Regions from separate parts of the Homo sapiens genome. Here region 1 is linked to region 2. The links come from fine-mapping of genetic effects on gene expression. A gene starts in region 2. The other region holds a variant in brackets. All regions are shown on one strand. Distances are from middle to middle.

What was found.
Region 1: its variant is fine-mapped to the expression of ZNF268 in whole blood (INTERVAL, PIP 0.95).

What each region holds. Positions count from the first base shown.
Region 1 is chr12:132,978,535-132,994,257 of GRCh38, reverse strand. It overlaps ZNF26 (zinc finger protein 26), which reads right to left and starts at 7,891. Exons shown (of 4, transcript NM_019591.4): 1 at 7,385-7,891. The coding sequence starts at 7,417. LOC124903064 (a long non-coding RNA gene) reads right to left here. Exons shown (of 2, transcript XR_007063552.1): 2 at 10,548-11,282. RefSeq lists enhancers at 7,271-7,320, 7,046-7,545, 7,801-8,270. The variant T/C (reference allele first, on the strand shown) is at 7,728.
Region 2 is chr12:133,175,238-133,190,960 of GRCh38, reverse strand. It overlaps ZNF268 (zinc finger protein 268), which reads right to left and starts at 9,466. Exons shown (of 6, transcript NM_003415.3): 1 at 9,275-9,466; 2 at 8,931-9,015; 3 at 2,889-3,089. The coding sequence starts at 8,963. RefSeq lists enhancers at 9,079-9,278, 9,319-9,628, 9,224-9,748.

The DNA.
Region 1 (15,723 bases), 200 kb after region 2:
ATCACAAATCTCTGTGAGAAAGCGTCAGGACAGAAATACCTGAACTGCAACTGACAAATTGCTAGAGGCTAGGTGTGTACATGTTTGAAGTTAAAAAGTCCAGGGGGACCCAGTCATGGTGGGAGTGGAGGGAGACAAAGTCCCAAGCTTTTCTGAGTTTTACTTTCAGGAGCTCAACCAGGTTCCCAGAGCCTAATATATTGGGGTTTTGTCAGAGCTTAACTAACCTGAGGGAAGAGAGATATACCAAATTCCACCCTGTCCCATCTAAGAGATGGGGTGGGGGTGGCCTGGGAAATACTTGTGAGGTTGAGAGTCCAGGAGAACAGGCTCACAAAGAGACAGACCTAATCAGGGGCCTACAGAATGCTCACCCTTTCCTGACATCTCATCACCACATTAGTAAAGTACTATTAAAAGTAATTCCTTTTACTCAGTACATCATGTCTAGCTATGAATGTAAAGGGACAAGGCAATACTAAAAGGCAAAAAAACATAGGGCAACCACGCGCCGTGGCTCACGCCTGTAATCCCAGCACTCTGGGAGGCCGAGGGGGGTAGATCACCTGAGGTCAGGAATTCGAGATCAGCCTGGCCAGTATGGTGAAACCCCGTCTCTACTAAAAATACAAAAATCAGCCGGGCATGGTGGAGTGCACCTGTAGTCCCAGCTACTCGGGAGGCTGAGGCAGAAGAATCACTTGAACCCAACAGGCGGAGGTTGTAGTGAGCCAAGATCACACCACTGCACTCCAGCCTGGACTCCATCTCAAAAAAAAAAATAAAAACAAAAACAAAAACACAGACAGGGCAAGCATCAGAACCAGACATGATAGGGATGTTGAAGGTATCAGACAAAACTTAAAACAACCATGAATAATATGTTATGGGCTCTAGTGAATAAAGTAGGCAGCATGTAAGAACAGATGGGCAGGCCAGGCGTAGTGGCTCACACCTGTAATCCCAGCACTTTGAGAGGCTGAGGTGGGTAGATCACTTGAGGTCAGAAGTTCGAAACCAGCCTAACCAACATACTGAAACTCTGTCTCTACTAAAAATACAAAAATTAGCTAGGCACGGTGGTGCGCACCTGTAGTCCCAGCTACTCAGGAGGCTGAGGCACAAGAATGGCTTGAACCTGAGAGGTAGAGGCTGCAGTGAGCCCAGATCGCACCACTGCACTCCAGCCTGGGCAAGAAAGTGAGACTCCATCTCAAAAAAAAAAAAAAAGAAATACTAGTGATCAAAAACACTGTACAGAAGTGAAGAATGCCTTTGATGGGCTTATGTATTATGTAGACTGCACGAGATTGAGGAAAAAAATCTTTGAACTTAAGGATGTATCAACAGAAACCTTCAAGCAAAGAGAACACTGGGGAAAAAAAAAAAGAACAGAATATCCAAGATGGACAGCCACAAAAGGTGTAGATATGCACAATGGAAATACCCGAAGGAAAGGAAAAGAACAGAAGAAAGACAGTCGGTGCCTGACGCACAGTGGTTTGACTTAGTATTTTTCAATTTTACAATGGCGCAGAAGCAATACACTTCAGTACGTTCCCCAACTTATGATGAGGCTCCATCTGGATAAACCTATTATAAGTTGAACATATTGTAAGTCGAAAATGCACTTCTGACAAAGAGATTTTCAATTTATGATGAGTTTATCAGGATGTAACCACATCATCAAGTCAAGGAGCATCTATATATGAAACAATAATTACTGAAAATTTCGCTGAAGTAATGTCAGACACCAAATCACAGATGGAGGAAAATCCGAGAATACCAAGAAGATAAATGCCAAAAAACCTGCACGTAGGCATATCATTTTTAAAACACAAAAAATCAAAGATAAGCCAGAGATGAAAAAAAATACCTTACCTACAGAAACCACACAAGCAAGAAAATGGAGTGAAACAGTTAAGGTGTTTAGAGAAAAAAAAATCATCAAAACAGAATTCTGTACCCTGCAAAATTATCCTTCAAAAGTAAAAAAAAGTCTTTCTCAAACAAAAACTAAGATAATTTATTGCTATTTCAAGTAAACTTGCCTTAACTAGGCAGAAAAGGAAAATACAGGTCAGAAACACAGATACACTTTTTTTTTTTTGAGATAGGGTCTTACCCTGTTGCCCAGGCTGGAGTGCAGTGGCATGATCTTGGCTCACTGCAACCCCCGCCTCCTGGGTTCAAGCGATTCTCATACCTCAGCCTCCCAAGTAGCCAGGCCTACAGGCACGCACCACCATGCCCAGCTAATTTTTGTATTTGTAGTAGAGACAGGGTTTCACCATGTTGGCCAGGCTGGTCTCGAACTCCTGACCTCAAATGACCCGCCGGCCTCAGCCTCCCAGAGTGCTGGGATTACAGGGATGAGCCGCCAGGCCCGGCCACAGATATATATTTTAAAAAGTGAGAACATCAAAGAAAGAATAAGTGAAAGTAAAATTAAAATTTTTTTTCTGATCATTTTTTTGAGACGGTCTCGCTCTGTTGCCTAAGCTGGAGTACAGTGGCACAGCAGCCTCGAACTCCTGGGCTCACCTCACCATCTCACCTCCCAAGTAGCTGGGGCTACAGGTGCACACTAGCACACCTGGTTTTTTTTTTAGGTTTTTTTTTTTTTTGTTGTTGTTGTTGTTTTGTATAGGCAAGGTCTCTGCGTTGCCCAGGCTGGTCTCAAACTCCTGGCTTCAGTCTCCCAAAGTGCTGGGATTACAGGCATCAGCCACCATGCCTAGCTATTTTTATTTTGTTGTTGTTGTTGAGTCTCGCTCTGTCGCCCGGGCTGGAGTGCAGTGGCACGATCTTGGCTTACTGCAACCTCTGCTTCCTGAGTTCAAGCGATTCTCCTGCCTCAGCCTCCTGAGCAGCTGGGATTACAGGTGTGTGCCACCATGCCCGGCGCTAACTTTTGTATTTTTAGTAGTGACAGGGTTTCACCATGTTGATCAGGCTGGTCTTGAACATCTGACCTCGTGATTCACCCGCCTCGGCCTCCCAAAGTGCTGGGATTACAGGCCTGAGCCACCACGCCCAGCCATGCCTAGCTATTTTTCTTATACTTAGTTGACCTAGTCTGTTCAAAATAGTAATGGAGGCTGGGCACAGTGGCTCATGCCTGTAATCCCAGCACTTTGGGAGGCTGAGGTGGGTGGATCACTTGAGGTCAGGAGTTCGAGACCAGCCTGGCCAACATAGTGAAACCCTGTCTCTACTAAAAACGCAAAAATTAGCCGGGCATGGTGGCACACACCTGTACTTCCAGCTACTCGGGAGGCTGAGGCAGGAGAATCGCTTGAACCTGGGAGGCAGAGGTTGCAGTGAGCCATGATCATGCCACTGCACTCCAGCCTGGGTGACAGAGTGAGACTCTATCAAAAAAATAAAAAGAAAAAAGGACAATAAAGGAACATCATACTATGTACAATTCTACGTCCACACATTTCATGACCTAGATGAAACAGACCAAATCCCTGAAAGACACAATCTGCCAAAACTGAACAAAAAGAAACAGACACTCTAATAAGCCTAAATTGAATCAAAAATTAAGAATCACCCAAACCAGAAAGTGCCAGGCCAAGATGGGTTCACTCACTGGTGAAGTCTACCAAACATTTAAGGAAAAAAATCACACCAATCTTTTTTTCCCTCTACAATATTTTTCAGAAGATAAAGGCAGAGGGAATCCTAACTCAGTCTATAAAGACAGCATCGCTCTAATACCAAAACCAGACAGAAACCCTAGAAAACTACAGAAAAATTATCTCATAAATATAGATACAAAAATCCTCAACAAAATACTAGAAAATAAAATACAACAATGTATAAAAACAAGTGTACACCACAGCCAAGTGGGATTTATTCCTGGTATGTAAGGTTGGTTCAATACTTGAATCAGTTCCATCGTATCAAATGACTAAAGAAGAAAAAGCATAGATAGATGCAGAAAAAACTTTTTTTCTTTTTTGAGACAGGGTCTCGCTCTGTCACCCAGGCTGGAGTGCAGTGGTGCAAACATGGCTCACAGCAGCCTCAACCTCCCAGGCTCAAGCAATCCTTCCACTTCAGCCTCCTCAGTAGCTGAGACTACAGGCATGTGTCACCACGCCCAGCTATTTTGTTTTTTAATTTTTTGTAGAGATGGGGTCTCACTATGTTGCCCAGGCTGGTCCTGAATTCCTAGGCTAAAGCTATCCTCCTGCCTCAGCCTCCCAAAGTGATTACAGGTGTGAGCCACATCTGGCCCAGAAAAAAAATCTGACAAAATCCAACCCCATTCACAATTAACAACAACAAAAACCCTCACTAAACTAGGAACAAGGGTCTTTCTCAACTTGATAGAGAATATCTACCAAGAAAAATGCTACAACTAACATCATACTTAACTGTGAGAAACTTGAAGCTTTCCCACTAAGATCAACAAGGCAAAATGTATCTTTAATCCCCTCTCACCACTCTTTTTCAACATTGTACTGGAAGTCCTATCTGAGGCAAAAAAACAAGAACAGAAAATACAGGATGAGAATCCCTGTTCCAAAAACCTGAAATCTAAATGCTCCAAAATTCAAAACGTTTTGAGTCCTCACACGTGGAAAATCCCACACATTAACTTAATACAACCTTTGTTTCACACACAAAATTATTTAAAATACTGTATAAAATTACCTTCAGGCTGTACGTATAAAGTATATATGAAACATAAACAAATTCTGTGTTTAGACTTGGGTCCCATCCCCAAGATATCTTATGTATATGTAAATAGTCCAAGATCTGAAAAAATCCAAAATCCAAAACAATTCTGGTCTTAAGCATTTTGAATAAAAGATACTTAACCTGTAAAATGTATAATGACTGTGAAGGAAGGAATAAAACTTTGTTCACAGATGGCATAATTGTGCAAAGTCCAAAAGAATTCACCAGACCCGGCACGGTGGCTCATGGCTGTAATCCTAGCACTTTAGGAGGCCGAGGTGGGCTGATCACGAGGTCAGGAGATCGAGACCATCCTGCTAACACAGTGAAACTCCATTTCTACTAAAAATACAAAAAAATTAGATGGGCGTGGTGGCACATGCCTGTAGTACCAGCTACTCAGGAGGCTCAGGCAGGAGAATCGCTTGAACCCAGGAGGTGGAGGTTGCAGTGAGCCGAGATTGTGCCACTGCACTCCAGCCTGGCCAACAGCGAGACTCTGTCTCAAAAAAAAAAAAAAAAAAAAAAAAAAAATTCACCGAAAGACTCCTGGAACTACATGATTATACCAAGGTTGCAGGATACAAAGTTAATATACAAAAGTCAACCCCTTTCCTGTACACAGGTGTAAGCTGAATTTGAAATAAAAAACACAATACCATTTACAGTAGCACCCACAAAAATTAAATACTTAGGTGTAAGTCTAACAAAATATATAATGATACTATATAAAATCTATATGAGAAAAACTACCAAACACTGCTGAATGAAAACTAAGAACTAGATAGAGAGATATAACATGTTCATGGATAGGAAGACTCAATATTCAAGACTTCAGCTCTTCCCAACTTGATCTACAGATTGAATGCACTGTCAGTTAAAATCCCAGCAAGTTATTTTGCAGATGTTGACAAACTGATTATAAAGTTCAGACAGACAAAAGACTTAGATTAGCTAACAGGATACGGAAGCAGAAGAATACATTTGGGAGAATGAACCTGACTTCAAGACTTATAGGCTGGGCATGGTGGCTCACACCTGTTATCCCACCAATGCTTTGGGAGGCCAAGGAGGAAGAAGTGCTTGAGGCCAAGAGTTGCAGGCCAGCCAGGGCAACACAGTGAGACCCTATCTGTACAAAAAAAAAAAAAAATTTTTAATTAGCCTGATGTGGTGGCATATGCCTGTAATCCCAGCTACTCAGGAGGCTGAGGTGGAGGATCCCTTGAGCCCGGGAGTTCGAGGCTGCAGTGAGTTGTGACTGTTCCACTGCACTCCAACCTGGGCAACAGAGTGAGATCCTGCCTTGAAAAAAAAACAAAAGATTTACTATAAAGACCAGCCTGGGCAACATGGCTAAACTCCATCGCTACAAAATATACAAAAATTACCCGGACTGGGTGGCATGTGCCTGTAATCCCAGCTACTCGGGAGGCTGAGGCTCAAGAATCGCTCGAACCCGGGAGGCAGAGGTTGCAGTGAGCCGAGATCGCGCCACTGCACTCCAGCCTGGGCGACAGAGCGAGACTCCGTCTCAAAAAAATAAAAAAAGACTTATTACAAAGCTACAAAAATCAAGACAGTGTGGCAGTGTGGTATTAGTGAAACAACAAATAGATCAATAGAACTCAATAAAGAGCCCAGAAATAGACCCATATAAATATAGTCAACTGATCTCTGACAAAGGAACAAACTCACAGGGGGAGAAATCCACTCCTAACTTTCTCTCGTTTCTTTAGCACAACAGCCTTTCTCCACCGTGTGTCCTTTCCTTTCATTAACCTGAGTCCTCACCTCGGTCCTCTTGAGGGTTCCAGTTGGTCACACTCTGAGCTTCCACGAATACAATAAGGTGTCTTTATGTATTTCCAGTTTAGACCTCCCATGTGAGTTACAGGCTGAAATACAGGCATTGGATATTCAACACCTGCGAAAGTCATTCCCAGGGTCCCTCTTCCAATAGCATTCCTAGTCTCCGGCTGTATAGCTCAATGGTAGAGCACCACATCCGGCAACGTCGTCAACACCACTCACCGAGGGCAAAGGATTTGGCAATCAAATCACTTGTAAAGACTCCCCTCTGGTTCACTCCATCAATAATTCATAAAGTCCCGATGATCCACTGGCCCGCCCCTTACCTTTCGGACTCTCGAGCTCCGCTCCTAGCCTTTTCTCCCTATTCATTCACCTGTAATTGCGTCCATAGTTCACTAGACTACCCTCTCCACCAAACCAAAGCTCCTCTAAAATTAGGAACATACATAATTTATCTCTGCATTGCCAGCACCAGCCTTAGAGTCCAGCAGACAAAAGGACACTCCATAAACAAGCATTTGGCCAAACGAAAAAGGAGGAACTGATCATTTCTCCAGCTAAGTTCTAAGGGTCTCCATAAGACAACTTTGTGTAGAAAACATGAAATGATGGAGGATCCTCAGACTTCAGGGCCCGCAGCTGGCCATGAAGTGCAGTATAACTGCCCGTCACAGAATACCACAGGCACGTTTCTGCAGGGCCAGAGCTTGGGCGAGCTTCAGAGGCGCTTTGGTTTGGTGGGGAGGGTAGTCTAGTAAACTACGCACACAATTACAGCTGAATGTGAGTTCAGTTCCCGGAGTAACCCTGAAGAGATTAACGTGGCCACCCTCAGTATCCAGTCGAATTTTAAACACGGAAAGTCTCTACTTACCCAGCACGAAGCTGTCCGGAAACTGGTGGCCATCCCCACGCCCACGTTCGCGCGCTGCCTGCGGGGGCAGGACCCGCGGGCTGCGGAGAGACCGTGAGGGATGCGTCCGCCCGAAGACAGGTGCGGGACCAGGGCCCCAGGCTCCTGACCGTCCCGGGGCCGAGTCGTTGGCAGGGACGCCGGCTCCTCAGCTCTCGCCCAACACAGACCGCGCGTGACTAGACAACCTCCCGGTCTGGGTACCAGGAGTCGCACGGATGGATTTGTGCCTTTCCGTGGCCCTGACTCGGGAGAGCAGGAGGCTGATCTGGCCCCGTCCACGCCCCGGACCGACGGAAGTGTT[T/C]AGCTGGTCAAGTCTCTGGTCTGCCCAGGATAATCCGAGCCGCTTAGCTCCGCGCCTCCGCGGCCACAGAGACTCAGCCAGGTACACCCGCTGGCCAGATTCCGGTCCACTGAGTCTAAGCCGGAAACAGCCCTGCACGCGCGCACCCGACTAAGGCCGGGAGTGCGGCGCATGCGGAAGTGCGTCCTGCGTCGATGCGCCAGGACGCGAAGGCGCCGGAAAAACTACATCTCCCACAATCCTCGGAGAAGGCTCCCTCGTTACAGGCCTGGCTTCCAGCTGCCGCGGATCTAGAGAGGGGCACAGCCTGACGGGAAAGGAAGGCTGGGAGGGGGCTCCGCCAGCGGCACCTGGTTCACCCTCCCACGGCTGCGCCAGGTTCAGTACCATCCTCGGAGCCTGGACGCCCAGTTTCCCAGGGCCTGTAGAACTGACTCAGAGTCCGACCCCAGCAGAGACGCAGGCGTGCTGAGGTTTTGATATCAAACAAGATAGGGTTCAGACCAGAAGGCACAGCAAAAAAGGACGCTTTGTAAAGCTAAAAGCTGCAGTTCATAGGGTTAAATAACAGTTTTGAATATCAGTGCACCAAATAATACAGTAACCAACTTCATAAAGGAGAAACTATAGTAGATGTGAAAAACAAATAAATAGAACCACACCAGTAATGAAACTGCCTTTGCAAAAATTATATCAGTGAGAAAATTATAGCAGTGGGGGAGGTCTAATCTAACCAAACCCCCAACTCTGCGCGCCTTTGGCTGTCAAGATGCCTTCATTATTCCTGGGCTTAGGCCAAGCTAACTTTGGAAGACATTTAGGTTATAGTTCAAATGATAGCCCTTTTCCAAAACCCAACTGCCTTTGTAAAACCTATGAGAGACCACCAAGCTAGCGGGAGGAGAGGAGCCTGAATTCTGCTAAGATGTGGATTGGTCACAAGACACGCAACTTCCCCAGTTACTCCTACAGATAACACCACTATTGTAGATTGGCCTTTTGAGATTTAAAAATGTGCAAAATGGCCAGGCACGATGGCTCACGTCTGTAATCCCAGCATTTTGGAGGGCTGAGGTGGGTGGATCGCATGAGCCCAGGAGTTGGAGACTAGCCTGGGCAACATGGTGAAACCTCGTCTCTACAAAACATATCAAAAGTAAGCCGGATGTGGTGGCATGCATCTGTAGTCTCAGCTACTTGGGGGGCTAAGGCAGCAGAATTGCTTGAGCCCGTGAGGTGGAGGTTGCAGTGAGCCGAGATTGCACCATTGCACTCCAGCCTCGATGACAGGAGTGAAACCCTGTCTCAAAAAAAAAAAAAAAAAAAAAGTGCCAAACATCTGAATAGACATTTCTCAAAAGAAGACATACAAATGGCAAACAGGTATATGAAAAGGTACACAATATAATTGATCATCAGAGAAATGCAAATCAAAACTACAACGAGATATTATCTCACCCCAGTTAAAATGGCTTTTATCCAAAAGACAAGCAATAATAAATGCTGGTGAGGATATGGGGAAAAGGGAACCCTGGTACATTCTTGGTGGGAATGTAAATTAGTACAACCACTATGGAGAACAGTTTGGAGGTTCCTCAAAAAAATAAAAATAGAGCTACCATACAATGCAGCTATCCCACTCCTAGGTATATACCCGAAAGAAAGAAAATCAGTATATCCAAGAGCTGTCTGCACTCCCTTGTTGACTGCAGCACTATTCACAATAGCCAAGATTTGGAAGTAACCGAAGTGTCAATCAACAGGTTAATGAATAAAGAAAATGTGGTACATATACACAATGGAGTACTAGGAAGCCATAAAAAAGAATGAGATCCTGTCATTTGCAACAACATGGATGGAACTGGAGATCATTATATTAAGTGAAATAAGCGAGGCAGAGAAGACAAACTTCACATATTCTCACTTATTTGTGAGAGCCAAAAATTAAAACAATTGAACTCATGGTGATAGAGAGTAGAAAGATGGTTACCAGCAGCTGGGAGGGTAGTGGGACACTGTGGGGGATGGAAATAGTCATTTGGCAGAAAAAATAGTTAGAATAAGACCTAGTATTTTCTAGCACAACAGGATATACTCAAAAATAATTTAATTGTACATTTTAACATAACTAAAAGTATAATTGGATTGCTTGTAACACAAAGGATAAATGCTTAAGGGTACCCCATTTTCCCTGATGTGATTTTTATGCATTGCATAATAATCATTGCATTATAATATGCATTCTATATCAAAATATCTCATGTAATCCATAAATGTATACACCTACTATGTACTCATAATAATTAAAAATTAAAAAAATTAGCCAGGTGTGGTGGCATACACCTGTAATCCCAGCTACTTGGGAGGCTGAGGCAGGAGAAATGCTTGATCCTGAGAGGTTGAGGCTGCAGTGAGCCATGATCCCACCACTGCGTTCCAGTCTGGGCAACACAATGAGACCCTGTCTCAAAAAAAGAAATTAATTAATTAAAAATTTTCCCACAGAGAAAATCTGGGAATGGATGGCTCCACTAGTGAGTTCCATCAAATACTTAAAGAAGAAAGGATAATTCTTTACAAATTCTTTCAGAAAATAGATGAGAGGGAATACTTCCCAACTTATTCTATGAAGCCAGTATTATTCTCATACCAGAGCTAGACAAAGACATCACGAGGGAAAAACAAAACAGAGCTACACACCAATATTCCTATGGTGTGTAGTACCATAGACATAGACACAAAAATTCTTAAGGCTTGAGAAAACTCTTTTTCTCCTGAAACTGGTTTTGCAGGTGGTTACTCATGTGAAAACTTACCAAATTGTTTAAATACATGCAGTTTATTCTATATCACTTTATAACTTAATAAAGCTGTTTAAGAAAAATGTTAGTAAGCTGAATCTGGCAACATACAAAAAGGATTTTGTAAAATGACCAAATGGAATATATACCAAGAATGAAAGATTGGTTCAACACTGAAAATCAGTATAATAAAAAACAAAAACTATGTGACTATTTCAATAGATGCAGCAAAAGGCATTTAGCAAAACCAACGTCTATTCATGGCAAAAACTCTCAACAATCTAGGAATAAAAGGGAATTTCCTCAACTTGATAATGGGCATTTTTTAAAAACCCTAGCTAACATCCTACAGAATGGTGAAAGACTGAGTGTTTTTCCCCTATAATAGGAAACAAGCAAGGGTGTCTGCTTTCAACACTTCTGTTCAAAGTTGCACTGGATGTTCTAGCCGGTTCTGTTCCACGTTGCACTGGATGTTCTAGCCAGTTCTGTTCCACGTTGCACTGGATGTTCTAGCCGGTTCTGATCCACGTTGCACTGGATGTTCTAGCCGGTTCTGATCCACGTTGCACTGGATGTTCTAGTCGGTTCTGTTCCACGTTGTACTGGATGTTCTAGCCGGTTCTGTTCCACGTTGAACTGGATGTTCTAGTTGGTTCTGTTCAACATTGTACTGGATGTTCTGGCTAATACTGTTCAACGTTGCACTGGATGTTCTAGTTGGTTCTGTTCAATGTTGTACTGGATGTTCTAGCTGGTGCAATCAAGCAAAAGAAAAGAAAGAAAAGGAAGCATCCAGATTGGAAAAAAAAGTAAAATTGGCTTTATTCACAGATGACATAATCCTCTATATAAAAAATTTCTAGGAATCAATAATAATAATAAAACCACTGAAACTAATAAATGATGTTAGCATGGTCAAAGGGTACAAGATCAATATATAAACACTATACTTCTATATACTAGCAGTGAATAATCTTAAAATGAAGTTAAGTAAACAATTTCTTTCACAGCATCAAAAAGAATAAAATAGTAATACATTTAATAAAAGAAGTAAAAATGTGGCCGGGCACGGTGGCTCATGCCTGTAATCCCAGCACTATGGGAGGCTGAGGCTGGTGGATCACGATGTCAGGAGATCGAGACCATCCTGGCTAACATGGTGAAACCCCGTCACTACTAAAAATACAAAAATTAGCCAGGCATGGTGGCAGGCGACTGTAGTCCCAGCTACTCGGGAGGCTGAGGCAGGAGAATCGCTTGAACCCAGGAGGCGGAGGTTGCAGTGAGCCGAGATTGTGCCACTGCACTCCAGCCTGGCAACAGAGCGTGACTCCGTCTCAAAAAAAATAATAAAATAAAAAATAAAAAAGGAAGTACAAACTTGTATGTTGGAAACTACAAAACATTACTCAGAGATATTAACAAATATTTAAATAAACAAAGACATTTCATATTAGTGGATTGAAAGGCTGAATACTATCAATATGGCAATTCTCCTCACATTGATCTATGAATTAAATGCAATTCCTGTCAAAATCCCACCAGACTTTTTGGTAAAAATTGGCAAGCTGAACATAAAATTTATAATGACATGCAAAGAACATAGAATAGCAAAACAATTTTGAAAAAGAATAAAGTTGTAAGACTTACACTACTTGATTTTAAATTTGCTATAAAGCCACAGTGATCAAGACAGTGTGATATTAGCAAGAGGATAAGTAAATAGATCAATGGAAAATAACTAAGGATCTAGAAATACATTGTAACATTTATGGCCAATTAATTTTTGACATAGTTACCCAGATAATTCAATGATGAAAGGTAGACTTTAGTAAATGATTCTGGGTAAATGGATGCCTATATGCCAAAGGAGGAGAAGGAGAAGACTTGCCTTACACGTCATACATGAAAATTAGCTGAAAACGGGTCAGAGACCTAAAAGTAAGAGCTAAAACTATAATACAATAGAAAATTGTTGTAAATTTGGGTTGGGTAAAGAGATTCCAGATATAACAACAAAAGCATGATCCATGAAATAAAAGCATTGATAAATTGAACTTTGTCAATATATAAAAACTTTTGTTTCAAAAGACAGTATGAAGAAAGTGAGAAGACAAGCCACAGTCTAAAAGAAAATATTTGCAAATCATTTATCTGATAAAAGACTTGTATTCAGAACACTTATGACTCAATAATAAGACAAGCAACCCAATTTTGCAAATGAGCAAAAGATCTGAATATATATATATTTTTTTCACCAAAGAAGCTACAGAAATGGCTAATAAGCACATACAAAGATGCTCAACGTCATTATTCATTAGGGAACAGCAAAGTTAACCACAATGAGATACCAGTAAAAATTCAATAGAATGGCTATAATAAGAAAAACAGACAATACCTAGTGTAGGCAAGTATGTGGAGAAACGAGCCTTCATGCTTTGCTAGTGAGATGTAAAAATAGCAGTCACTTTGGAGAACAGTTTGACCATTACTTAAAAAGTTAACCATAAACTTACCGCATGACTCTGCAATGCTACTTCTAGATAGCTAAGAGAAAATGAAAACTTATGTCTGTATAAAGTCGTTTATGATAATGTTTATAGCAATATTATTATTATTATTATTATTATTATTATTATTTTGAGACGGAGTCTCACTCTGGCCCAGGCTGGAGTGCAGTGGCACGATCTCGGCTCACTGCAAGCTCCGCCTCCCGGGTTCACGCCATTCTCCTGCCTCAGCCTCCTGAGTAGCTGGGACTACAGGTGCCCGCCACCATGCCTAGCTAATTTTTTGTATTTTTAGTAGAGACGGGGTTTCACCGTGTTAGCCAGGATGGTCTCGATCTCCTGATCTCGTGATCCGCCCACCTCGGCCTCCCAAAGTGCTGGGATTACAGGCGTGAGCCACCGCACCCGACCAGCAATATTATTTATAATAGCCAGAAACTGGAAACAACCCAAAATGTCTATCAACTGCTGACTGGATAAAGAAAAGTGAAAGCAACTCAAATGTCCATCAAATGATGCCTGGATAAACAAACGTGGTATAGCCATAACGATGGAATACTGTTCAGCAATTAGAAGAGGGGGGAAGTGCTGATACATGCGATGTGAATAAACCTCAAAAACATGATGCTGATGTCAAGAAGCTAGACAGAAAAGTCATCGCATGTATGATTTTGTGGATATAAAATGTCTAGAAAATGCAAATTTGTAGAGTGAAAAATCACATCAGTAGTTGCCTAAGGATAGGAGTAGGAACAGGGGTTAAATGTAAATGGGCATAAAGAACTTTGGTAATGAAGATGTTCTAAGGCTGCATTGTGGTCATGGTAGTAAAACTCTATGAATTTACTAGTATCACTGAATTGAATACTTACAATCGACACATTTTGTGGCATGTGAATTGTATTTCAATAAAACTTAATTAAGGCCACTGAGTTTGACTATTGGAAATGAGAGAGATAAAAGCAGAAATAAATGAGGTCGAAAGCAGAACAACAGCAGAACTAATAAATAAAAACATTTGTTTTTGAAGAACGTTAACAAAATAGAAAACTCGGTGTTCTAATCCAGCAAAAAGAGAAAAAGTACAAATATACAAAATAAGACATACAAAGAGGAAATAACTACTGAAACAAAAGATAGATGTTTTTTAAATCATAAAAGACGTTTTTGCCCAACTCTAGGCAAAAACATTTTGAAGACCTAGATGAAATGATTAAATTCTTAGGAAAATTGAATTTTCCAAGATTTACCTCAGAAGACTCAACAGCCTACTTTTCATCAAATAAACTTGTGAAGAACCACCCCACAAAAAAGTAACAGATTTTGATGGTTTCATAGGAAAATGCTGCCAAACTTCAAAGACCAGATAATCCCAATGCTCATAAATTATTCCAGAATAAATAATACTTCTGGCCGGGCGTGATGGCTCACACCTGTAATCCCAGTACTTTCAGAGGCCGAGGCAGACGGATCACGACGTCAGGAGATCAAGACCATCCTGGCTAACATGGTGAAACCCCGTCTCTACTAAAAATACAAAAATTAGCCGGGCGTGGTGGTGGGCACCTGTAATCCCAGCTACTCAGGAGGCTGAGGCAGGAGAATCACTTGAACCCAGGAGTCGGAAGTTGCAGTGAGCCGAGATCGCGCCACTGCACTCCAGCCTGGCAACAGAATGAGACTCCGTTTCAAAAAAGAACAAACAAACAAACAAAAAAACTTCCGAATTTCTGGAGCAATTATAACAATACTATGTTAACCTAAAAAAGTATCACAGAAAATGAAAACAAAAATTGATTTCACTTGTCAACAGTGATGCAAATATCTTAAGTCATAAACAGAGTGAGGTATTGAAGTCTTCAATTATTACTCTAGAATATTGCTCTCATGAATTCTGTCAGTTTTTGCTTTATATATTTTTATGGTCTGTTATTAGATATATAAGTATTATAATGTCCTATGTTGAATATTTTATTAATCTACAAGGTTATTCTTTGTCTTGTGATCTGTTTTGGTTTAAAGGCTATTTTGTCTGATGCAACCATCACTGCTTTCTTTGGGATATTTACATGGAATATCTTTTTCAATCCTTTCACTTTCTACTATTTGTGTTTTTGGATGTAAAGTCAGTCTCTTATAACAGCATATAGTGGAATTATGTATTTTTATTCAATCTTCAAATGTAAGTCTTTTGATTGAAAAGTTTATCATTTACATGTAAATTAACTACTAATGAGGAAGTTTTTTTTTTGAGATGGAGTTTCGCTCTGTCACCCAGGCTGGAGTGCAGTGGCGCAATCTCAGCTCACTGCAACCTCCGCCTCCCGGGTTCAAGTGATTCTACTGCCTCAGCCTCCCGAGTAGCTGGGACTACAGATGCGTGCCACCACGCCCAGCTAATGTTTGCATTTTTAACAGAGACGAGGGTTTCACCATATTGGTCAGGCTGGTCTCGAACTCCTGACCTCAGGTGATCCACCTGTCTCAGCCTCCCAAAATGCTGGGATTACAGGTGTGAGCCACCGTGCCTGGCCGGAAGATATTATTTCTGTCATTTTGCTTTGTTTTTGAAGTGGCTTATAAGCGTTTTTATCTCTAATTTCCTGCATTGCTGTCTTCTTTTGTGTTTATTTATCTATTTTTTTTGAGAGGGAGTTTTGCTCTTGTTGCTCAAGCTGGAAT
Region 2 (15,723 bases):
CAGGACAGTCAGGCAAACAAGTTCGACTGATCACTCCTACATCTGCAATACAGTTACCAACCTCTATGTCCAGGAATATAAACATAAATGAAATACAGTCCTGCCACCAAGAAGCTTTTAGCACTGCAGAATGAAGAACAGTTACATATGCAAATGCAACTGAAAGTCAAAGAAGCTAAGAAAAAAGAACACAGATTACAACGTAGGCACAAAGGAAGAAGGAAGCAATGCTATTTGACAGTGTCAGGTGAAATCTGTGAAAGGGCACTATTGGTACCCAGAAGAGAAGACACATTAAAACTTTATGGACTAAAAAGGTAACTGCTGTAAGTAGCAGCCACTCTGTGGGATAAAGACCTAAACATGAAAATATACAGATGGTAAATGAGCATACAAAGCATGCTCAATACCATATGTCATTAGGGAATTGCAAATCCAGACAAAAGTAAGACACCACTACACACCTATTAGAATGGATAAAATCCAAAAAACTGACCACCAAATGCTGGAGAGGATGTGGAGCAATAGGAACTCTTATTCATTGCTGGTGGGAATGAAAAGTGGTAGAGTCACTTTGGAAGCCAGTTTGGCAACTTCTTACAAATCTAAACAGTCTTACCATATAATCCAGCAACTATGCCCCAGGTATTTATACAAATGAAAACTTACGTCAAAGCAAAAATAGAAGACACACATGACAAGCATCAGATATGAAAAGAAGTTATCATTACTGAATTCACAGACAAGAAAAGACTAACTGCTCTGCGCACATAAATTTGGTTAAGTTAGTTGAAAAGGACATATTCCTTGGAAGACGCAAATTACCAAACTTACTCAAAAACAGATAAACTTGGGCCAGGCGCCATGGCTCACGCCTGTAACCCTAGCACTTTGGGAGGCCGAGGCGGGCAGATCACAAAGTCAGGAGAACGAGACCATCCTGGCTAACATGGTGAAACTTCGTCTCTACTAAAAATACAAAAAAATTAGCCGGGCATGGTGGCACATGCCTGTAGTCCTAGCTGCTCAGGAGGCTGAGGCAGGAGACTCACTTGAACCCAGGAAGCAGAGGTTACAGTGAGCCGAGGTCGTGCCACTGTGCTCCAGCCTAGGCGACAGAGCGAGACTCCGTCTCAAAAAAACAAACAAACAGATAAGCTTAATTATTACATATCTATTAAAGAAATAAAATTTGTAGTTAACAGCATACAGATTGGAAAGAAACAAAACTGTCCTTTTTTACAGAGAGAGTAAGGAAACTGAGGATGCCAACGAAAAGATGAAGATGACACGACTGTTTATGAAGAAAATACCAAAAAACCTAAGAAAGTTCCTAGAACTAACTAGTGAATGTAGCAAGGTCACAGGATACATGGTCAATACATAAAAGTTGGCTATATGCCTATATAACAGCAATAAATCATTTGATTTTGAAATTAAGAAACTAGCTGGATGCCGTGGCTCACACCTGTATTCCCAGCATTTTAGGAGGCCGAGGCAGGTGAATCACTTGAGGTCAGGAGTTTGAAACCAGCCTGGCCAACATGGTGAAACCCTGTCTCTACTACAAATACAAAAATTAGCCGGGTATGGTAGTGCGCACCTGTAGTCCCAGCTACTCGGGAGGCTGAGGTAGGAGAACTGCTTGAACCCAGGAGGCAGAGGCTGCAGTGAGCCCAGATTGTGCCACTGCACTCCAGCCTGAGTGACAGAGCAAGACTCCATCTCAAAAAAAAAAAAAAAAAAGGAATTAAGACACTGATACTGTTTACAACAGCAACAACAAAACAGAAAGAACTTACATATAAATCTAAAATATCTGTGTAGGATCTGTATGCTCAAAACTATAAACATTGACTTTTAAAAATCAAAGATCTAAATAATGGGGGAATCCTGTGTTCATGGATTTGAACTCAATCCCAAAGGCACTGTAAATCGAAAAGTGAAAGGTAAAGTAATAAAGTAATAAAGAAAAAGATCTTTATGAGCTTAGGATAAGAAAACAATAGGACACAAAAATCATTAGCAATAAAATAAAAAAATTTGCAATCCAGACTCAGTAAAAGTTAGAAATATCTGTTCATCAAAAGTAAGCATTAAGAGACTAAAAAAGCAAGCCAATATTGGAAGTAAAAGAAGCACCCGAGGAAAAAATTTGAATATAGGCTTCATAGTAAGTTTGTTTTAAACTTTAATGTGCATGAATCACTGAATCTTATTAAAATGAAGAGTCTGATATTAACAGCATTGAGGTGAACTCTGATATTCTGCATTTCTAACAAGCTTCCCGAACAATACATATTACGTAAACACACATTTTTTAAAAAAAAGGATACACATAAAACACAAAATAACTTTTTGGGGATGGGAAAGGAGATGAAAATTGAGTATGAGGAAATAAGAGAATATATAAATAAAGGTAGATAAGGACCTTACATGAACCAATGATGATAAAAGGGCCATGGGCCAGGCACAGTGGCTCATGACTGTCATCCCAGCACCTCAGGAGGCTGAGGCAGGAGGACTGCTTGAGCTTAGGAGTTGATGACCAGCCTGAGCCACACAGGGAGACCTCCTCTCTACTAAAAATAAAAAACATCAGCCAGGCATGGTGGCACTTGCCTGCTGTCCCAGCTACTCAAGAGGCTGAGGCTGGAGGATCACTTGAGCCTGGAGTTTGAGGCTGCAGTGAGTTATGATTGCACCACTGCGCTCCACTCTGGGCAACAGACCAAGACCCTGTCTCAAAAAAAAAAGTGGGGGGGTTTTGAACTGAACTGAGGAGTGATTAACTTAACCCTCTGACCTAAGGATCTCCATCCCTCTCTGCACCAAAAAAAAAAAAGGTAATAAAGAAAACACTAGGAATAAACAAATGAGAAGCTCACCCAGGACTTGGTGATTTTTGGCTGCTCTTGGGAAATAAACAGCCACTCTAGGACTTTCTCTATTCTGCGACTCTTCTGCTTCTGCCTGGGTGTTCCAGGGAGAGGTTGCAGACCAGGAGTCCCTTGGCCCAAGATGGATTCCTGACCTTGGAGCTTTCTGATCCTATCCCATGAACTGTTTCGTTCTTGGAGAGGTGGGACCTGTGGACTCAAGAGCAAATTTACTTTAGCGAGCATTATTTCCTTTGGGGAAAAGGAAATAGGGGTCACATCACATAAATGTGAGAGAAACACGTTAGAAAACAAGGCAGGTTTAACTTCAGGAAATGCAGGGTTAGAGGCAGAAAAGAAATGGCTTCCTGACAAGGCTTAGCACCAAGAGTTCAAGTCAAGTTTTGAGCCCTTCATGATAAAAATACAGGTACGACCCTCAAACAGCAAAGCTAGAGAAAACTGTCCTGGCTCATCCTAGCCTCCAAACGGACTTCCTGCCACAAACCAAATGGCGTCTTAATAGGCTGGTTTGGTAGGGCAGTAGGAATACCCACACAACATTATTATGAGGGAATAAGGAACCAAACGAGGCTCTGACAGACAATAAAAACATAACCAAAATATCTGACCACATAAAAAATTGTAACATAATATTTCAAAATGAAGTAAAAGAAATCAGAAAAACGAAACTTTGAAAGGACAGATATATAAAAAATAAAAGAGCCTAGAAAGTAGATGCTTAGAAATGTGAAATCTGGAAAATGTGAAATGAGAAATATCAGAATAAATAAATAAATTAGGAAAAAAATTCAGAAATGAAGATTAAATTTAGGAGGAACATAAAAAAGCGCCAACGACCTAGAAGGCGGCACAGGTGAAAAGTGGGGAAAGCCTAAAAAAAAAGGAATAAAAAATTAGAAAAAGAAACAATGAATGAAATGCCATGAAAAGGCTGTTCACCAAGGCATTTTTATAACCCAAATATCTGTAACTACATAACTGGTTGAAAACACTATGGGCCATCCATACAGCCAGTAAAAGGTGATAAGAGATAGGGAAGAGGGAGCGAACAACCTCTATGTACCACTATTGGTATAATACAATGATCAATATATACTCTTAGTGATAATGACAAGGGGAAGAATAGTACGTACAGAAAGCTAGCTTTTGTGTTACAAAAAAGAAGTGGGATTGCAAGTATACGTATACGCATGTGTGTGCCATATAAATGGGATCATATAATATCTAGTCTTTTGTGTCTGGCTTCTTTCACTTCGCATAATGCTTTCAAGGTTTATGCTTGTCATAGCACATATCAATAGTTTGTTCTTTTTGTTGGTGAATAGTATTCCATCACGTTTCATCATTCACCATTAATGGACATTAAGATTATTCCCTGGAGGCTGGGCGCAGTGGCTCATGCCTGTAATCCCAGAACTTTGAGAGGTCGAGGCAGGTGAGTTGCCTGAACTCAGGAGTTCGAGACCAGCCTGGGCAACACAGTAAAACCCCGTCTCTACTAAAATACAAAAAAAAAATCAGCCAGGCGTGGCAGCGTACACCTGTAGCCCCAGCTACTTGGGAGGCTGAGGCAGGAGAATTGCTTGAACCTGGGAAGCAGAGGTTGCAGTGAGTGCCACTGTACTCCAGCCTGGGCAACAGAGTGAGACTCCATCTCCAAAAAAAAAAAAAAAGATTATTCCCTGGAGACCAACAGCTTATGTCTCAGAGCCTTCTCTGTGTACACTGGGCACAGTCTACCCGCTCCACATTTTACTCTACATTTCAGGGTCTAGGATCCTAGAATCTCTGCCTCAAGAAATCCTCAACCTACATCCAGAGACTAAATAAGGTACACAGGCCAGGAAAATGCATGTAGAGCCAGAATATCTGGGTTCAAGTCCTGGCTCTACATTGACCAGGGGTGCCACCTGGTCTCCAACTAGCCCTTTCTGGACCTCAGTACCCTTACCCATCAAAGGAGAAAAACAGTATTCACCACCTGGGGCTAGGGCTACTGTGAAGTTTTAAGGTGATAATACCTAATAAATGATTTAGCACAGAACCTCATACGTAGTAGACACTGAGCATTAACATTTGGTTGAAACGGCAAAAGAAAACAAAACAAAACATAAAACCAGGAATACTTAATGAAAATAAACCACACTACAAAATGACAATCAACAAGATAAAAAGCATATGCTGGTTCTTAGAAAAGAGGACTCCACCTTCAAACATCCCCCAACTCTGACCAGTGTCTCCATTTCTACCACACTACACAAAATCCCTGCTACCTCTTGTCTGAACGTGGTCACCTAGTCAGTCTCTGGCTTCCCCCTCTTTCTGTGCCTACTCTTGCCCACCTACAACCTGTCCCCCACTCAGCACTCAGAAGGGTCTTTGGAAACCCTAAGCAGCTCACGTTGCTCCCTGTCTTAGCGCCACACACTCTCCCGGGCCCCATGGCTTCCCAGCCTGATCTGGCCTCTGCACCTGTGTTCATCTGCTCTCCTCTCTCTCACTCCCTACCCCCAGTCACAAAGTCCTTCCTTCCAGGTTACCTGATCTGGCCTCTGCACCTCTGTTCATCTGCTCTCCTCTCTCTCACTCCCTGATCTGGCCTCTGCACCTGTGTTCATCTGCTCTCCTCTCTCTCACTCCCTACCCCAGTCACAAAGTCCTTCCTTCCAGGTTACCAAGGCATCAAACTTCTCTTGCCTCGCAGCCTTGGCCCTGGCTGTTCCCATCCTGGATGTTCTTCTACCTGCTCTTCCCAAGGCTGGCTTGCTATTGTAACTCAGACTTAGCTTAGACGTCACTTCCTCAGTGGGGGCCTTCCCTGAGCACCCAAGCTAAAGTAGCCACCACACATTCTTTGTTTTTTTTTTTTTTTTTGAGACAGAGTCTCACTCTGTCGCCAGATTGGAGTGCAGTGGCGTGATCTTGGCTCACTGCAACCTCCTACTCCTGGGGTTCAAGCGATTTTTCTGCCTCAGCCTCCCGTGTAGCTGGGATTACAGGTGCCCACCATCACGCCCAGCTAATTTTCATATTTTTAGTAGAGACGAGGTTTCGCCATGTTGGCCAGGCTGGTCTCGAACTCCTGACCTCAGATGATCTGCCCACCTTGGCCTCCCAAAGTGCTGGGACTACAGGCGTGACCCACCACACACAGCCCATCACCACTAAATTCCATTTAGGTTTTTATGACTGCTACGGTTTCAATGATTGCATCCCTCCAAAATTCATGTTGAAACTTAACCCCCATTGTGATGGTATTAAGAGGTGGGGCCAATTAGCTGGGCATGGTGGTGCGCACCTGTAATCCCAGCTACTCAGGAGGCTGAGGCAAGAGAACCACTTGAACTCGGGAAGCAGACGTTGTGGTGAGCAGAGATAGCCACTGCACTCCAGCCTGGAAGACAGAGCGAGACTCAGTCTCAAAAAAATAAACAAATAAATAAATAAATAAAGAGGTGCGGCCTTTTAATAGTGATTAAGTCATGACGGCTCTCCTTCAGGAATGGGATTAATACCCTCTTAAAGAGGTTTCAGAGAGCTGCCTGGCCCTTTCATCTCTTTGGCCATGTGAGGACACAGCATTCTTCCCTTTTTGCCCCCTTCCACCATGTAAGGATGTAGCAAGAAAGTGCCATCTTGAAAGCAGAGAGCAGAGCCGGGTGCGGTGGCTCACGCCTGTAATCCCAGCACTTTGGGAGGCTGAGACAGGTGGATCATGAGGTCAGGAGATCGAGGTCATTGTGGCCAACACAATGAAACCACGTCTCTACTAAAAATACAAAAAAAAAATTAGCTGGGCGTGGTGGCACACGCCTGTAGTCCTATTTGGGAGGCTGAGGCAGGGGAATCACTTGAACCCGGGAGGCAGAGGTTGCAGTGAGCCAAGATCGCGCCACCGCACTCCAGCCTGGGGACAGAGAGAGACTGTCTCCAAAAAAAAAAAGAAAACAAGAAAGCAGGCCTCATCAGATACCAAATTCACCAGCACCTTGATCTTCAACTTGTCAGCCTCCAGAATTGTGAGAAAGTAGTATCTGTTATAAGTTCCTCAGTCTGTGATATTTTGTTACAGTAGCACAAACAGACTAAGACAATGATCTAATATTACTTGATCTCCCTCATACATGTCACTTGACAAGCATTTTTGAGGTTTCCATTTCTTTAAGTGTGAATTACATGTCTCTATTTTGTCTTACTTTTCTTGGGTTCCATCTCAGTCTTCAACACCTCTTCCCCTGCTTTCTCTTGTCATTTCCCTGACCACTGTCCTCAGTTCTCTTCTTAGGGTACACATTCTCCCTGAGCTACTTTGGCCACACCTAATTTGCAACCTCTACCTAGAGGAGCCAATCCATACAAAACTGAAATCTTCCCCCTCTACCAATCACAATTCTGACAGTCTTCCCTTACTCAGCAAATGGTGACACTCCCAACCAGGCCCACAGAGTAGAACTCCAGTTGTCATCCCTGGCTTTTCTGCCTCTCTTAGCACTGCACCCAACTAGTTATGAAATCTAATTTCTTCTGCCTCTTTACCTCCTCTCCTTTTTTTTTTTTTGAGACAGAGTCTTGCTCTGTCACCCAGGCTGGAGTGCAGTGGCGCGATCTCGGCTGACTGCAACCTCTGCCTCCTGGGTTCAAGCGATTCTCCTGTCTCAGCCTCCCGAGTAACAGGGATTACAGGTGGGAGCCACTGCACCCAGCCACCTCCTCTCCTTTCTCAAAACCACTAATTTACTTAAACCCTTATATTCTCTTACCTGCTGCAGACTAGACTGTTCTACCCTCAAATCCGTTGTGAAAACACTTCAATAAGTAAACTCCTTCCCCTATACCAACAGTCCCCAACCAGGGACTCGTTTTGTGGAGGACAATTTTTCCATGGACGGGCAGTCGGGTGCGGCGATGGCTTCTGGATGAAACTGTTCCACTTCAGATCATCAGGCATTAGAGTCCCATAAGAAGTGCGCAACCTAGATCTTTCGCATGCGCAGTTCACAATAGGGTTTGTGCTATGAAAAGCTAATGCAGCCTCTGATAGGAGGCGGGGCTCCGGCAGTCATGCTCACTAAACCGCCACTCGCCTCCTGCCATGCACCCCAGTTCCTAACAGACCACAGACTGGTACCAGTCTGAAGCGTGGGGGTTGGGGACCACCTGCCCTATGTGATACAATCCAAGTTTTTAATGGGGTCCTCAAAGCCCTCTATGATCTTAGGCCTACGGCTCTAGCCTCATTTTTTAATATAACTCTACTATCACCATTAAACTCAACATTTTAGCAACCCTAAAGTGCCCAAAGTTCACCACATGAGGTCATTTCAAGCCTCTCAAATTTGCACGTTACTTCTTTTTCCTAGGCTGGTTTTAATCCTTTGTCTACTTTAGGTTTGTCATCTTTCAAACCTAAGGTTAAGAATCTCTTAATCATTGAAGCATTTGGGAGTAAGGGGTTAGGGGGTGTCCTTACTTCCAAAACTGACCCATTCCTGCATGTCTCCGTGTATTTCCACAGCCTGCTCCCAGAGCACTCATTAACTTGTCATTGTCTTTCTTATCCACCATTCCTAGACCACTGTTCTTCAAGACAGGGATGATAAGCAACCCATCTTTGCATTTTTAGCACCTGCCCCAGGGTCCAGCAAACAAAATACAATAAAAAAAAATGTTGAACAAGTGAATAAAAAAGTTTGTAATTTCCAAAATAAGGTTTAAAGATCCCAGATACAGAAGGCCCTCAGTAAATAAAGGCTGAAAAAACTGAAAGATGTGTGAGTATCCCTTGTTTAACTCCAAAGTTCAGCGTACAAAGTTGTTAGAAAAGAGATTGATGAAAGGAGGAAAAAAGGAAGTCGGATGACAAGAAGCATTTCTGGAAAGTCTAACATGCTATAAATGACGATCCAGTTGCCTAAAAGAGCGGTGGGGTGAGAAAGCTCCTGGCAAATTCAGACTGGAGTAGATGGAGTGCGCACACGTTGGCATTCAGGGAGAGCTTTTCAAGAATGAAAGAAAACCCCTACTCACCCAAATAGAAGCTGTCCGGACCCTGGTGGCCATCCCTACGGTCAGTTTTGTGTGCCTCGCTGGAAGTGACAGGACGCGAGGGATGCTAGAAGAGAGAGCACAGTGAAGAAAGAGGTCACCCAGCAGTCCCCAAACCCAGAGGGGGAGGGTCCGAGGCACCAGGGCTGCCTGCCATTCTCGGAGCTGAGGCTCCTTCCCTCCCACAGCACGGGATTCACCATCTCCACACCCTCACCAACACACAGGTTAGGGTCAGGCAACCGCCCCGGGTCAGCAGCAGGAGAGAGCTAAGGCAGATTAGTTCTGTCCCGTCCCGCCGCCTTGAAACCGGAGGAATTCCGCACCTCCGGCTCCTCCAAACCCTGAAGGGGCAGCAGAATAGAGTCCAGGGTACTGCCTCCACCTCCAGATCTGCAGCCAGAAGGGTTCGCAACCACTCCAGACTCGGCTGGCCCGTTGACCACGACGGGCGATGAACGCTATCTGAGGAACAAGGATCTCGCCATCGGCGCGGAACAATGGCGGCCGCTACGTATGTCGCACAGGAATTGCGTCATGGAGAGGCAAAGGCAAAAAAACTACAACTCCCAGAGGCCTCTGCGAGGAGTTACTCCCGCGCCGGAGGGCTCCGGCCAAGGGCCACCGGGAGGGGGCGTGCTAAGATGACCCGGAAGCTCAGGCCTTCCTGGCCAGGTCCCTGAGCTCCCGCGCTTGCAGGTTTTAAATTTTAAAGAGAATTAAAATACTTGACACCAATGGCTCAACGGTTGGAGGGATGTAAATTAGGTTACAAGTGTTCTAGTCCCTGCTTTACTGAAATGGTAAAAGTCTTATTTTGCTTTACACTTTAATAACAGATTCGTAAAATTCCCATTACATGTTAACATAAATAATATTTTAATGAAAATTACATATATTTTACAAAAGAAAAAATTTAGTAAGGAGTGGCTTCGCTTTTTAAGTCTTTTCTGACTTACTAGAAAGCTGGATTCTCATATCTGCTTCTATGTTTAATCTGTTGCGTATGTTGTTTTTGTTAAAGTATATAAAGATACAAGTCGAACAAGGGATAGTTTTGTTAGTGTACAATCTGAAACCACGTAGATGAACTTTTTCTACTCTATTACATAAAATCCGTTGGTCTACACTGCACTTTGAATGGATTCTTTTATCACGCATGATTTCGTAACATCATGTATTGGCCAGTTGGAAAATATTGGTTTACTTTAATGGCAAAAGCCGCAATTACTTACTTTTGCACCAACGGAAAATATCCACTAATCATTATTGATCTTAAGTATTGGGAAGAGGTGACATTCACAGAGGCAGATACAAGTTTTCTAGAATTCTTTTGTTTTTGGCTTTTAAAAACTTTTATAAATTTATGAGGTACAAGTGTAATTTTGTTACATGCATCAGTTGTGTAGTGGTGATGTCAAGGCTTTTAAGGTATCCACGCCCTATAGTACGTTATATGCATTGTACCAGTCAGGTAATTTATGATTATCCCTGAAACCCCCCCACACCTTTTGAGTCTTCATTGTCTATCATCCCACACTCTACATCCATGTGTACATATCCTTTAGCTCATACTTAAAGTGAAAACATGTGTTTTTCTTTCTGTGCCTGAGTTGTTTCACTGAAGATAGTGGCCACTAGTTCCATCCATGATGCTGCAAAAGACAATTTCATTCTTTCTTATGGCTGAATAGTATTCCATTGTGTATATATAACACATTTTCTTTATTCATCCATTCATGGACATTTAGGTTAATTCCATACCTGTGATATTGTGAATAGTGCTGTGATAAACATATGAGTGCAGGTATTTTTTTTATATATATAATGATTTCCTTTGGGTAGATACTCAGTAACAGGATTGCTTTATCAAATGGTAATTCTATTTTTAGTTCTTTGAGAATTCTCCACACTGTTTTCCATAGGTTATACTAATTTCACTTTCTCACCAACAGTGTATAGGAGTTTCCTTTTCTCCACATCCTCACCAACATCTTCTTTGTCTTTTTATTTTTATTATTTTATTTTATTTTTTGAGACGGAGTTTTGCTCTTGTTACCCAGGCTAGAGTGCAGTGGCCCGATCTCGGCTCACCGCAACCTCCGCCCAGGTTCAAGCAATTCTCCTGCCTCAGCCTCCTGAGTAGCTGGGATTACAGGCATGCACCACCACACCCGGCTAATTTTGTATTTTTAGTGGAGACAGGTTTCTCCATGTTGGTCAGGCTGGTCGCAAACTCCCGACCTTAGGTGATCCGGTCACCTCAGTTTACCAAAGTGCTGGGATTACAGGCATGAGCCACCGAGCTCGGCCTGTTTTTGTTTGTTTTGATTTTTTTTTCCTTTTGAGACGGAGTCTCGCTCTGTCGCCCAGGCTGGAGTGCAGTGGCGCGATCTGGGCTCACTGCAAGCTCCGCCTCCCGGGTTCACGCCATTCTCCTGCCTCAGCCTCCCAAGTAGCTGGGACTACAGGGGCCCGCCACCACGCCTGGCTACTTTTTTGTATTTTTTAGTAGAGACGGGGTTTCGCCGTGTTAGCCAGGATGGTCTTAATCTCCTGATCTCGTGATCTGCCCGCCTCGGCCTCCCAAAGTGCTGGGATTACAGGCGTGAGCCACCGCACCCGGCCCGGCCTGTCTTTTTAATAACAGCTACTGTGACTGATGTAAGATAATATCTCTTTTTTTTCCCCCACAACCTCGCTCTGTCGCCCAGGCTGGAGTGCAGTGGCTTGATCTCGGCTCACTGCAACCTCCGCCTCCTGGGTTCAAGCAATTCTCCCCGCCTCAGCCTCCCAAGTAGCTGGGATTACAGGTGCCCACCACCATGCCCGGCTAATTTTTGTATTTTTTATGAGAGACGTGGTTTCGCCATGTTAGCCAGACTGGTCTTGAACTCCTGATCTCAGGTGATCTGCTCACCTCGGCCTCCCAAACTGCTGGGATTACAGGCGTGAGCCACAGCGCCCGGCCTCATTGTGGTTTAAATTTGCATTTCTCTGATGTTTAGTGATGATGTTGAGCATATTTTCATATGCCTGTTGGCCATTTGTATGTCTTCTTTTGTAAAGTGTTATTTGTGTTCTTTGCCTGCTTCTTAATGGGATTATTTGGGTTTCGTTGTTGTTGTTGATCTGTTTGAGTTCCCTGTAAACTCTAGATATTAGTCCCCTCTTGTATGCAAAGCTTGCAAAAATTTTCTCCCATTCTGCAAGTGTCTCTTCACTCTGCTTACTGTTTATTTCACTATGAAGAAGATTTTTAGTTTAAGTCCCATTTCTCTCTTTTTCTGTTTGTTGCATGTGCTTTTGAGGTCTTAGTCATGAATTATTTACCCAGACCAATGTCCAGAGGGGTTTTCCGTAGGTTTTCTTCTAGTATGTTTATAGTTTCAGGTATTCCATTTAAGTCTTTAATACAGCTTGAGTTGATTTTTGTATATGGCGAGAGATAAGGGTCAAGTTTCATTCTTCTGCATATGGCAATCCAATTTTCCCAGCACCATTTATTGAAGAGGTTGTATTTTCCCCATGCTTGTTCTTGTTGACTTTGTCAAAGATCAGTTGGCTGTAGATATGTGGCTTTATTTCTGGGATCTCTATCTGTTCCATTGACCTATGTGTCTGTTTTTATACCAGTACTATGCTGTTTTGGTTATTATAGCCTTATAGTATAATTTGAAGTCAGGTGAAGTTATGCCTCCAGCTTTGTTCTTTTTGTTCAGGATTGCTTTGGCTGTTTGAGCTCTTTCTCGGTTGCATATGAATTTTAGGATTTTTTTTCTTTTTCTTTTTCTTTTCTCTTTTTTTTTTTTTTTTTTTTTTTTTACACAGAGTCTCACTCTGTCACCCAGGCTGGAGTGCAGGGTCATGATCTCGGCTCACTGCAACCTCTGCCTCCCAGGTTCAAGCAATTCTCCTGCCTCAGCCTCCAGAGTAGCTGGGATTACGCGTGTGCACCACCATGCCCGGCTAATTTTTGTATTTTTAGTAGAGATGGGTTTTCACCATGTTGGCCAGGGTGGTCTTGAACTCCTGACCTCATGATATGCCCATCTTGGCCTCCCATAGTGCTGGGATTACAGCTGTGAGCCACCGCACCCGGCCTAGGATTTTTTTTCTCTAAATCTGTGGAGAATGACGTTGATATTTTGATAGGGAGTGCATTGAATCTGTAGATGGCTTTGGATAGTATGATAATTGTAACATTATTAATTCCTCTGAACAGCATGGGATGTTTTTCCATTTGTTTATATCATCTACAATTTCTATCATCAGTATTTTGTAACTTTCCTTGTAGAGAGTTTTCACCTCTTTGGTTAAATGTATTCTGAGGTGAGCTTTTTGTAGCTATTAAAAGTAGAATTGCCTTCTTGATTTTGTTCTTAGCTAGATGTTGTTAGGGTACAGAAATGCTACTGATTTTTTGTTTTGATTTTGAATACTGAAGCTTTCCTGAATTCATTTATCAAATCTAATACTTTTTCAGTGGCATCTTTAGGTTTTTCTAGATATAAGATTATATCATTTGCAAACAGGGACAATTTGACTTCCTGTTTTCCAATTCAGATGCCTTTTATTTCTCTTGCCTGATTGCTCTGGCTAGAACTTGCAGTACTATGTTAAATAGCAGTAGTGTAAGTGGGCATTCTTGTCTTGTTCCAGTTCTTGGAATGTTTTCAACTTTTCTCTCATCAGTATGATGTTGGCTGTGAATTTGTCATATGTGGCCTTTACTATTTTTTAGTATGTTCCTTCTATGCCTAGTTTCTTGAGGATTTTTATCATGAAGGGATGCTGAATTTTATTAAATGTTTTCTCTGCATCTATTGAGATGATCGTGTGGGTTTTGTCCTTAATTAGGTTTATGCAGTGCATCACATTTGCTGATTTGTGTATGTTGAACCATCCCTGCATCCCTAGTATAACACTCACTTGATCATGTGTATTATCATTTTCATGTGCTGTTAAATTCAGCTTGCTAGTATATAGTTAAGGATTTTTGCATCTGTGTTCTTGAGGGATATTGGTCTATAGTTTTCTTTTTTTTGTTGTGTCCTTGGTTTAGGAATCAGGGTAACATAGGGCCTTGTAGAATGAGGTAGGAAGAATAATTCCCTCCTCCTCAATTTTTTGAAACAGCTTTAGGGGAATTGGTATTAGTTCTTTGTACATTTGGTAGAATTCGGCTGTGAATCGATTTCACCCTAGGCTTTTTTGGTGGGGGAGATATTTTATTATTGATTCAATCTTGCTCCTTATTATTGGTCTGTTCAGGGTTTTTCTTTGTTCATGTTTCAATCTTGGGAGGTTGTATTTTCCAGGAATTTATCCTTATAATCTAGGTTTTATAGTTTGTTAGTATATAATTGTTCATAATGGTCTCTAATGATCTTTTGTATTTTTGTGGTATCAGTTGTAATGTCTTCTTTTTCATTTCTGATTTTGTGTATTTGGATATTCTATCCTTTTCTTGGTTAGTCTACCTAGTAGTTGTCAGTTTTAGGGTTTTTTCCTTTCAAAGAACCAATTTTTGGTTTTATTGGTCCATTATATTGTATCCATTTTTGTCTCTATTTCATTTAGTTTTACTTTGACCTTTGTTATTTATTTTCTTCTGGTAACTCTGGGTTTGGTTTGTTCTTATTTTTCTAGTTCCTTGAGAAGTAATGTTAGGTTGTTAATTTGTAATCTTTCTGCTTTTTTGATATGGGCATTTAATGCTATCCACTTCCCTCTTAGCACTGCTTTTGCTGAATCCTATAGGTTTTGATATGTTGTATTTCCATTTTCATTTGTTTCAAAAAACTTTTAAATTATAATCTTAATTTTTTCACTGACCCAGTGATCATTCAGGAGCATATAGTTAATTTCTACATATTTGTATGGTTTCGAAAGTTCCTCTTGTTGTTGATTTCTACTTTATTCCCCTGCAGTCTGAGAAGATAATTGATATGATTTTGATTTTTAAAAATTTGTTGAGACTTGCCTTGTGGCCTAACATATGGTCTATCTTGGAGAATGTTCCATGTGCTGATGGGAAAAGTGTATATTCTGCAGTTGTTGAGTAGAATATTCCATAAATATCTGTTAGGTTTGCTTGGTTTGAAGTCCAATTTAAGTCCAATGTTTCTTTGTTGATTTTCTGTCTTGATGATGTGTCTACTGCTCTGAGTGGGTGTTGAGGTCCCCCACTACTATTGTATTGCTGTCTATCTCTTTCCTTAGAACTAGAAATATTTGTTTTAGGAATATGGGTGCTCTGGTGTTGGGTGCATATACATTTAGAATTATTATATCCTCTTGCTGATTTGATCCTGTTATCATATATTGATTTTCTTTTTCTTTTTCTTTACTGATGATTTAAAGTCTGTTTTATCTGATGTATATCTATTTCTGCTCACTTTTGGTCTCCATTTGTGTGGAATATCTTTATCCACCCCTTTTTTTTTTAGTCCATATGTGTCTTTACAGGTAAAGTGAATTTCTTGTAAGCAGCATATAGTTTTATTATCTTTTAAAATTCATTCTGCAAATCTATAGCTTTTAGGTGGAGTATTTATTCCATTTACATTCAAGGCTAATATTGATATGTGAGGTTTTGTTCTTGTCATATTGTTGTTTTCTAGTTGTGTTATAAGTTTTTTATTTCTTTCTCTTTCTCTGTCTCTTTGTGCTTTGGTGGAATTCTGTTGTGTTGCCATTTGATTTATTTGTCTTCCTCCTCTGTTTAATTATTTTATAAGACCTGTGAGTTTTATACATTCATGTATTTTTA